Linked DNA regions of Homo sapiens. The protein of the gene in region 3 purifies or fractionates together with the protein of the main gene of each other region. This does not show direct contact. Each region holds a gene or a part of one and is shown on either strand. Other genes may lie near its edges.

Region 1 (3,662 bases), on a different chromosome or scaffold from region 3:
TCTCTAATCCATCTCTACCTACCTCCTGCTCCAAACAAATTTGAACCGCTTGCTATTCCTCAAATTCTCTATTTTTAAACTTCTGCTTCATATTTTATATTATTCACTCTCCCCAAAATGCCCTTATCTTCATTTCCCTTTAAAAACTCCATTCATTCTTTAGGTTCATGTCAAAAGCTACCTTTTCCATAAAATCTTCATAGAGCCCCACATATGATCTCCATGCTACTTTATTAGTGTTTCATGTAATATAGCTTATTCTCTTTTTAAATATAGCTATTTCTGTATTTATTGTAATAATAATAACAGTAACAGCAGACACAAGAGTTTTGATTCAAAGCTTACTGTATGCTCTAAATTAACATGCATTATTTCCATTTTATAGATGAGGAAACTGAGGCTTTGACAGATTAACTTATTTGCCCAGGGTCAAGCCATATCCATGTATGCCTGATTCTAAAGAATTGAGTGAACTCTTAGCTACAACACTGCTTTTAGACACTGGTGACAAAATCATTCTTAAAGGTTATACAGTCTTCTTTACTTCTGAATTTCTATAATGTGTAGAACAGTAGCTTTACAATAGCAGAAATTCAATAAATAATTTATTGAACTAAACTACAGTTAGAAAGTCCAAGTGTTATTACAATTCATTCTAATAGGGTATCCAAATACTTCCATTCTAACAGAATATCACATATTCCTAAAAGTTTACACTAATTTGTACCATTAATTAAGGATTTATGATTAAACATTTTAATGCTATTATTAAACTAATAAACAGTGAAATTAAGAGAAAATAGATTATCTATTAAAAATATGTATTTTCAATCCTTCAGTCTGTTTTATCTATTGAAGAAAAAAGTGTATGTTTCAATCATGAAAGGAAGGTATTTCATATCTAAAGGGCAGCAAACCTGGTTTTTGGATTGTTGCATCTTATCTCTGTGTTGATGTGCTTCTCTGTTTGATGACAGAGCAGGATCTTGCTGAACTGCACCCACTGGAGTAGGCTACAATACAATAACAATTGGTATCAATACATTCCATTTTAAAATTCTTATTTAAAATCATTTAGCTGCTTAAAAGAATTAAGGAAAAAAACAAAAGACTGTTAAATAAACTAAGGCTTTAAGTAAAGGCATCATTATCAAAATATGTTGTTAAAGCTAAGAAGGTAAAGCAAAAAGAATATACCTACTTTTTAAAGTGTTTTTAAAATATTCAAATTCTTTATAAAGTACTTATTTTTACATCTACAGAACACTTAATGCTGCCATTACTTTTAGGCTACATTTTCATATCAACATGATAAAAATGTATATGTTTATGCCTCTCATTTCCAAAGCAAATGTATACATAGAATAAACTTTTAAGAAAATTAAAAGAATAAAAAAACTAATAAAATTACTTATTTCCAATATTTTGACTTGAAGAGACTCATACAAATTTTAATTTTCATCAAGGGATTGAAGTATTAAATTAATCATGAGAATATTACACAAAAAAGAGTATATTTGACATTAAGAACTAAATCAGGATGAAAAGTTAAAAGTAACTCTTCATGCTAAAAGGCAAAGAATCCAGATGTAGGGCTTCTGAAAAACTCAAAGAACACTAGTACGGCACTACCTGCAGAAATGTCCCTTAAAAAACAATAAAATGAATCCTTTAAAACAACTATTTGTTCTCAACTCTTTTCAATTGAAGATATTGTACTATTAAAAAGGCAACAGATACTGTAAGTAATATATTATTATATAGAATACTCACCAACTGTTTACCAATCCAGTCATATTCATAATCAAACATATATCCTTTTCGATCAAACAAGTCAGTAAAAAGCTTTCTTAAGTAGTCATAGTCTGGTTTTTCAAAAAAATCTAGCCTTCTTACATAACGAAGATATGTTGCCATTTCTTCTAGAAATAATATAAAAATTATTTGGACTATACTTTTCTTTAATACTCAGTAATAAAATTAAGTATCTAAAAGCACATTGTATTATATAAAAACACTTGAAAAGTAACAAAATTACATTGCAATTTAAATTTTTCTGAGTTTAATTACAACAAAATAAAAAAGAGGAAAAGAAGGAAGGGAATAGAGACACAAGAAAAATGGGAGGTTTAGTTTAACAACCACTATTTTTGCTTCATTTCATTAGGAAAAGCTAAAATTTTCATTTTTATAAGATTATTTTTAATATTTGGTAGTATGAGAAGTTGAATAAGCAGTTTAATAATGCATGATTAATCACAAAGCATCATATTCAGTTTATAAATTTAAAATTTTATTTAAAATACCGGTGAGAACTGATTTATATGAAAGCATCTGTATTGGCTTGCTGGATTTCCTTTAGAATCAGTGACATAAACCAACTAACTAATAGAGAATTCAAATTCCTAACCTTGGCTTTGAGCAGTATTCTAACCAATTAAGCTAACAAAGGAAAGCTAAAACAAATCTCAAAAACATAACACAAGAGGACAGTGTAAGTCTTCTCTTAATTTCTGGTCATATATTTAACAATTATTTGGCGATATACAAATCTCTGCATGCTATTATAATTCCAAAATGTATTAGATACATGTATCTAATACATGCAAAAACAAACAAACAGACAAACAAATATATAAATATAAAACAATGGGCAAAATGGTGAGCAATTAGTAAAGCAGGGCATTTCACCATCAGGGCACAGAAAATCACTACAGTAAGAGATGGTAAGTTACACCTAGCATTCACAGGCAGCCCCAGCCAACAGGAAAAAGATCACACCCAGCACAATGAGGCAACAAAAGTGGTGTGCAGTGACCTTCTTTAGGTGGTGACTCTCCCACTATTCCACTTTCTAGCTAAATACCTGGCTAATTTGATTTGGCAACCCCATTTTTCCCACCTTTATATAGGCTTCCTTAATGACAACTACCCTATCTGCCTACACTAAACTGCTAGTACTATTAACCGACATTTTAAAAAATCTACTTCTAGATATTATAGCAAGAAAGGAAAATATATAATTAAAGTTTGCTGTCAATGAATAATATAAACAAGCTTGAGAAAGAGCTACTTTTGTTATGTTGATAATATTATTATTACATTAATAACGCCAGCATTATACAGGAGAACTACGGAATACTAAAGTGAGATAGGAATTCCGTATTTTATCTTCAAATTTAGCTCTCTTTTCACTTAATGTGGCTGCACAAATAAATCACAGTCATTATCTTAATATACTAACAAGTTATTCTTATTCCTTAATTGATGTAGAAATCTTAAGTAAATTTTTTTTGGCTTAATTTGAGTTGCCATAAATCTACTTGAAAGCAAAATTATTTTCATAAATGCATACAGCTCCCCAATATAAAATTAGCCCCAAACTAGTGAGGTCAGTAAGGTTTTACTGGCCTTACTTAATTTAAGTTTAATTTGAAAACTAAACCAAATCATACTTCACATACCTCCTTTGAACTTGACATTGAGACCCAAATGACTAACACTGAATACCAAAACTTTGTAACTGGCATTTCTTAGCAAAAATTTTAACTCATTAAAAGTATATCACTAAAGAAAATATTACTTCAGCTGGTAATGATCAACACTATTAACAGACAGGATTTTCTTCTATTAATACCATTTGCAAAGCAAATACACAAAGT
Region 2 (3,662 bases), on a different chromosome or scaffold from region 3:
TGTTTCTGAATTTTCATGTCCCTGGAACGATTTGCCTTCCCACTCTGACACTGTCAATGGCCTATCTCTGACTTTTGACTTCAAATGTCAAAAACCTGCAAAAAGTAGTTTCATGTATTCAGCAATTTACTACTACCTGGGCTATTTCTACCACCCCAACCAAGTTACTACTATAATCTAATCAACAGTCTGTATTTCACACAGGCCCTCCATGCCTGAAACATTATTTTGACCATTTTTAAGCAATTTTCTCTTATCTTCAAGGTCCAGTTTACTCTACTTTTGACTTTGCTTCCAGGCAAAAGGAAATAAATGTGCTCTCTAGCACATTAAAAGTACATCTTTGATAAGTCCCAACTTAAATACATAATAAATGGGGATCTAGAAAGAATGTAAAATATTTAAATAATAAATACGTGAATCTTATAAGATAATTACTATTTACCCCGTAATAAACTTAAACTCCCAGTGGCCTCTGGATTTACCTCAAAAGCTCTGAGTGTGAGAGCAATTTCCTCAAGCAAATGTAGATCTTTGGAAACCAAGACCTTTAGCTTGTTCCACTTTCCTTGCACATCATCAAATTCTTGCTTATATAATTTTTCTACATCAGGATGAACATTTTTCTCCAGAGCCTTTGTTTCTTCTGCAAGTTTATGTAATGCAGGTTTCTGATTCTCAAGGATTTCATCAAGGGTCTGGAAAAAGTTTTAAAAGATTAAAAATATGCACAAAAATGTGTCTGCACAGATATAGTAAAATGGGCTATATAAAGTCAAAAGTCACTTTAAAATGCATTAGAAAGCATTTTTATCTAAAAAGAACAGTGGGTGGGAGTGTGAATTAGTTCAACCACTGTGGAAGACAGTGTGGTGATTCCTCAAAGACCTAAAACCAGAAATGCCATTTGACCCAGCAATCTCACTGGGTATATACCCAAAGGAATACAAATCATTCTGTTATAAAGATATATGCACACTATGTTCATTGCAGCACAATTCACAATAGCAAGGACAAGGAATCAACCCAAATGCCCATCAATGATAGACTACTTAAAGAAAATGTGGTACATATCAACCATGGAATACTATGCAGCCATAAAAAGGAACAAGATCATGTCCTTTGCAGGTATATGGATGGAGCTGGAAGCCATTATCCTCGGCAAACTAATTCAGAAACAACAAAAAAAAATACCGCATATTCTCACTTATAAGTGGGAGCTGAATAATGAGAACATACGGACACATGGTGGGGAAAAACACACACTGGGGTCTGTTGGAGGGTGGGGCATGGTGGGAGGGAAAGCATCAGGAAGAAGAGCTAATGGATGCTGGGCTTAATACGTAGTGCAGCAAACTACCATGACACACGTTTACCCATTTAACAAACCTGCACATCCTGCACAAGTACCCCTGAACTTAAAATAAAAGTTGGAAATCAAAAAACAAAACAAAACAAAACATGAAAAACTCATGAAAAAAATAGGCATAATCATAAAAATTAAAGCTTTTTCTTCATGAGTTGTGTGTGGGCAATACAGTGTATTCTCAACCCTAAAAACCAAGGGAACAGCAAACCCAGTGTGGGCCAAGTGTGCAGTGCTCAATGGCTGCTCTCCTTTTCATCTAATAGCACAGAGCCATAAGGCTACTCAACTAAATGACCTCGGAAACATTCCTATTCGATGCAGAAAAAAGTATACATCAACACGTCAACTGATAGTCCTCATTTCATAAAGATATTTTAGCAGATTTTATGAACAGGTTGAGAATTTTAAGCTAATCACAGCAGAAGGAGAAAATATGCTTTTCTTCTATGAAAAAATTTTTAATAACTGTACTTTCTTTTATGTGAGGTCAAACTAACCCTCAAATCATAAACACATTTTTGCACCAATGATGAACAAAACTGACCAACTTTTTTTTTAATCTCTGAAAAAACATTTCAAAATATGTAAGAGGAGATATTAGAAGAAGCGCTAGAGTTCTAACATGGAAGATATATGTTACCTTTTTTTCTTGCAGGGCCTTCTCCACCTTGGCAAGATCATTAAGGACATTCAGAGACACCTGGGCCTTATTTTCTGAATCATTTAGCACATCTTTCAGTGTTTTCAATGTTTCCAGATATGCATGTCCAGGTTGGCCCTTCAGTTCTGTTTATTTAAAAATATTTAGTTTGAAAAAATCATATTAGGAACCAATATTATTACATAGACCATTATCCTAAATGAATTCCAATACATGGCAAAGGAGACCCCATGATTAAAATGTAAAAGGGTCTCTGTTAATTAACAACATAGATCATTCCATTGGCATTTCTGAGAGTCAGACAGTGACTTCATTCCTGCGGATGTTGACGTTTGAAATATTAACTAACCCACTATAATTTTTCTTCATTTCTTCATGATGAAATGTCTCTCTGAAGATGGAACAACAATGTCCCTTTTGTTCCATATAATCTCCTCTTCCTTAACAGCTACACAAAGAATAAAAGAAAACAAAGATCCCTTCAACCAGTCTTGCTGTAAGCTCCACCGTGTAGACAAACCCAGGTCCAGAGTGGAGGAGATTATATGGAAATACTGCCACCATGCTGCCCAGGTACCCTGAGAAATAATGACTGAACAGCCAGCTGGAACAGTGTCTACCTCAGTCACTAATGTAAAAATATCACAGAAGTAACACTTGCGTGGAAAGGAAGTGAGTTCTCTTGAAGCACAAAGAGGTGAAACCAACTAGCAGCAAAAGTTAAACTGCCTACTGATCCTTGTCAAAAGTGAAAGCACAGCTTGTACCAATAAGTGGAGAAAGAGGTACCCTCAAAGACATATTTCACATAACTGAATTCAAGGAACAAAGACATGCTGTCCAGATGCACTTTCAGAAGAAAGGCAATACGACACATTTGCCTAGCATGCACACATACAGACACTTCCAGTCATCACACAATCTACAATTGCTGAAGTTAGGCTGGGTTACATGTGGAGCATTTCACACAATGCTCAATGCATTTCACAAAATAATGCACAATGCAACACAGTTCCTAACTCAAATGGCAGCTAGGAAGTAAATAGTGTAACGTAGGAGGGATGAGCTTTCAAAATCTTTAACAGTGAACCTTCCAAAACCAAGTGTATTCCAAAAGTAAGAACTCTAAAATTTTTCTGAATCTGACAGTGGAATATGATTTCTTTTAAAAGACAGTATGAGACTGCCAAAACTTTAACTATTTTGAGGAAACAGAAGTAAGGGATCATTCATTTTGATCCTCCTAGCAATGATATTAAGTGGCCTCCTCAACCAAAGGAAGAAATTGCACCTGTTTCTCAAAAAAAAAAAAAAAAAAAATCTTTAAAAATCATTATATCCAGGTCAGGTACAATGGCTGACACCTGTTATCCCTGGTATTTTGGGAGGCTAACATCTGTTATTTTGCCTAACACCTGTTATTTTGGGAGGCTGTTATATCACCTGTTATAATGGCTTACACCTGTTATTTTGGGAGGCTGAGGTGGGAAGATCACTTGAGCCCAGGAGTTCTAGACCAGCGTGGGCAACATAGCTAGACCCTGGCTCTACTAAAAATAAAAAACCAGCCAGGCATGGTGGTGCATGCCTGTAGTCCCAGCTACTCAGTAGGCTGAGGCAGAAGGACCACTG
Region 3 (2,563 bases):
TATGCAGTGTTGTTTGTTTTGTTTTGTTCCCCCGCCCCCAACCAGAGCTCAAGACAATCATTTTATAAAGAACAGAAGTTAAATAAACATTGTAGAATAAGGCCTCTTATGCATTCTGAGTTTTCTAACCTATACCTCATGATTTCATAGTGCAAGGCTGATCGCTAGTTGTTATCTCACATTCTAGAATGCTTTGTCATGACTTAAATGCAGTTATATGTGTCATAAATTCCTTTAATAAAGATAATAATGATGGTGATGTTGAAACCAAATGTTTGACACAATTCTTCCTTATGTCCATTTTAGCAAATATAATGTTAAAATCTGAGGTTAATCCCCAAATTCTGTTCTTATATAACTGCACAAAAAAATAAACTTAATAAATCTAGCGTTTATGTTTCACATTTAATAGAAAAATTTTAAGCCATAATCACTGTAGCTGCTTGGCATCTTCTTCAAGAATTCTTTCAGTGCATGCATTAACTTTGGTTAAATTATTCTGGAGTTAAAAGGCAGAAGAATATATAAAATAGTATGATTTCAGAAGCATCATTCTAACAGACCAATTTCAAAAGATTCAGTTGCTAAATTTTACTTCATAATTCCTTTGTCAATCAGTTATTTAGATTTTAAAAGAGGAGAGAATCCTGTGATGTTATCTGCATGATCATTAGTCTCACACAATGAAAAGAAAACAATAAAATAAGACTAAAGAAATCATTCTTCCAATGATTGTCATTGAACTGTTACATTAGTAAACATTCACAGTTTGAAGTCTCTCTCAATCTCCAGCATATAAAGTAGTGCAAAGAAAAAAAAATCCAGTCCTGTTACCTGCAAACAAAACTTATTACATATTCTCCAATTTCACTTATTCTATAATGTTAGACATTTGCTGTTAAGTCTTCCCAAAATTAATAACAAAATATAATCAATTTCTAAAGGCCCTTGCAGCCTTTTTAAAAGTTAATTTCCAGTTAAAAATAAATTTTAATTAAATCCAAGATAAAATTGTGACCTATAGTCTATTAAATAATTTACTTTCTTTTTTCTCTACACAGTATTTCTTACAATTTTTAAAAAACAACTACAGAATCCAAAGACATACGATATGCTGTTAAAGCACTGATAAATGACTGCTCAGATTCATTAGTTCTTACATAGTAAATACTTCAAAATGCCAACTTTTCCCTTCACTGCACAATTACTAACATTGACAATTTACTTCACACACACACACATATACACACACACGCACACACTCTCTCTCTCCATCTTTACTGTTAACATCTTTTCCAGTTAATGTGCAAAATTCTTGCATTCTAATAAAAATATAAAGATAGATTTGCTCCTATTCCTCCCTCTTCTCCAAGATGTATCATTTATTTGATATGTAATACAAGTTTAGTAACAATTATGCCATGTATAACCATTAAATAGTGTACTACTGTATGCATTGGATCATTTGCATATTTCATTTTCATAACTGCACTCTCTATGCATAAATATATTTGGAGATGCTGAGGGGGGAGCAGTGGCAGGTGGAAAAAGATTCACACATCAGTCTCCACAGCCTTTGCATTAGAACAGTTGTTTTTATCTGTCTCACTGTCATCCCCCTTTCCCTGACACTTCTCCTCCTTTGCACACAGAGATTCCTTAACTCCTTCTTCCATCTCTAGATACTCTGACTTGTCCCCCAGGGAAGAAGAAGTAGAGCTCCGAAATTTCTTGAGCAAATTAGAGGGGAGGTATGGACAACTGACTGCATTCTGCGTTAGCTGTGTCTGTTCCTCATTTTCAGTCTCTCTGTGGTAGAAATAGTTAAAGTTAGAGACAATCACTGGCACTGGCAAAGCAATGGTTAAGACACCCGCAATGGCACACAGGGACCCGACAATCTTGCCCCCTACAGTGATGGGCTTCATGTCCCCATAGCCCACAGTTGTCATGGTCACCACAGCCCACCAAAATGCATCTGGGATGCTTTGGAAATGGGTAGTAGGTTCATCCGCCTCTGCAAAATACACAGCACTAGAAAAGAGGATGACCCCAATGAAGAGGAAGAAGATCAGAAGGCCCAGTTCCCGCATGCTGGCTCTGAGGGTGTGGCCCAGGATCTGCAGGCCTTTGGAGTGCCTGGAGAGTTTGAAGATCCGGAATACTCGGACCAGACGAATGATTCTGAGGATGGCAAAGGACATGGCCTGCTGCTGCTGACCATTGCCACCCCCCTGTTGCTGGGCCAGGTCAGTGCCCAGTGTGATGAAGTAAGGCAAAATGGAGACAATGTCAATGATGTTCATGATGTTTTTGAAGAAGAGTGCTTGGCTGGGACAAGCAAAGCAGCGAACCACAAACTCAAAGGAAAACCATACAATACAGACTGTTTCCACGATGAAGAAGGGGTCATTGAATATTGTGTGCCCTGAGTTCTCCAGATGGGGTGCTGAAGTATCATTCAACAACCCACCATGCCCGCCAGCACTCAGTGCCATGACGAGATCCCTGTCGTCCCTAAACTCAGGCAAGGTTTCCAGGCAAAAGATGACAATGGAGATTA

What was found.
Region 1: the proteins of KCNA4 (region 3) and CSNK1G3 purify together in Homo sapiens (affinity purification with mass spectrometry; one large-scale study listed by BioGRID and IntAct). This does not show direct contact.
Region 2: the proteins of KCNA4 (region 3) and UTRN purify together in Homo sapiens (affinity purification with mass spectrometry; one large-scale study listed by BioGRID and IntAct). This does not show direct contact.

The regions. Positions count from the first base shown.
Region 1 is NC_000005.10:123,588,670-123,592,331, reverse strand, and holds part of CSNK1G3 (casein kinase I isoform gamma-3), read right to left. Parts: intron 1,923-3,662; coding exon 1,774-1,922; intron 1,014-1,773; coding exon 918-1,013; intron 1-917. UniProt on the Homo sapiens protein: Serine/threonine-protein kinase. Casein kinases are operationally defined by their preferential utilization of acidic proteins such as caseins as substrates. It can phosphorylate a large number of proteins. Participates in Wnt signaling.
Region 2 is NC_000006.12:144,459,690-144,463,351, reverse strand, and holds part of UTRN (utrophin), read right to left. Parts: intron 2,156-3,662; coding exon 2,010-2,155; intron 699-2,009; coding exon 486-698; intron 1-485.
Region 3 is NC_000011.10:30,009,164-30,011,726, forward strand, and holds the end of KCNA4 (potassium voltage-gated channel subfamily A member 4), read right to left. Parts: coding exon 1,554-2,563; 3' UTR 567-1,553; downstream 1-566. UniProt on the Homo sapiens protein: Voltage-gated potassium channel that mediates transmembrane potassium transport in excitable membranes. Forms tetrameric potassium-selective channels through which potassium ions pass in accordance with their electrochemical gradient.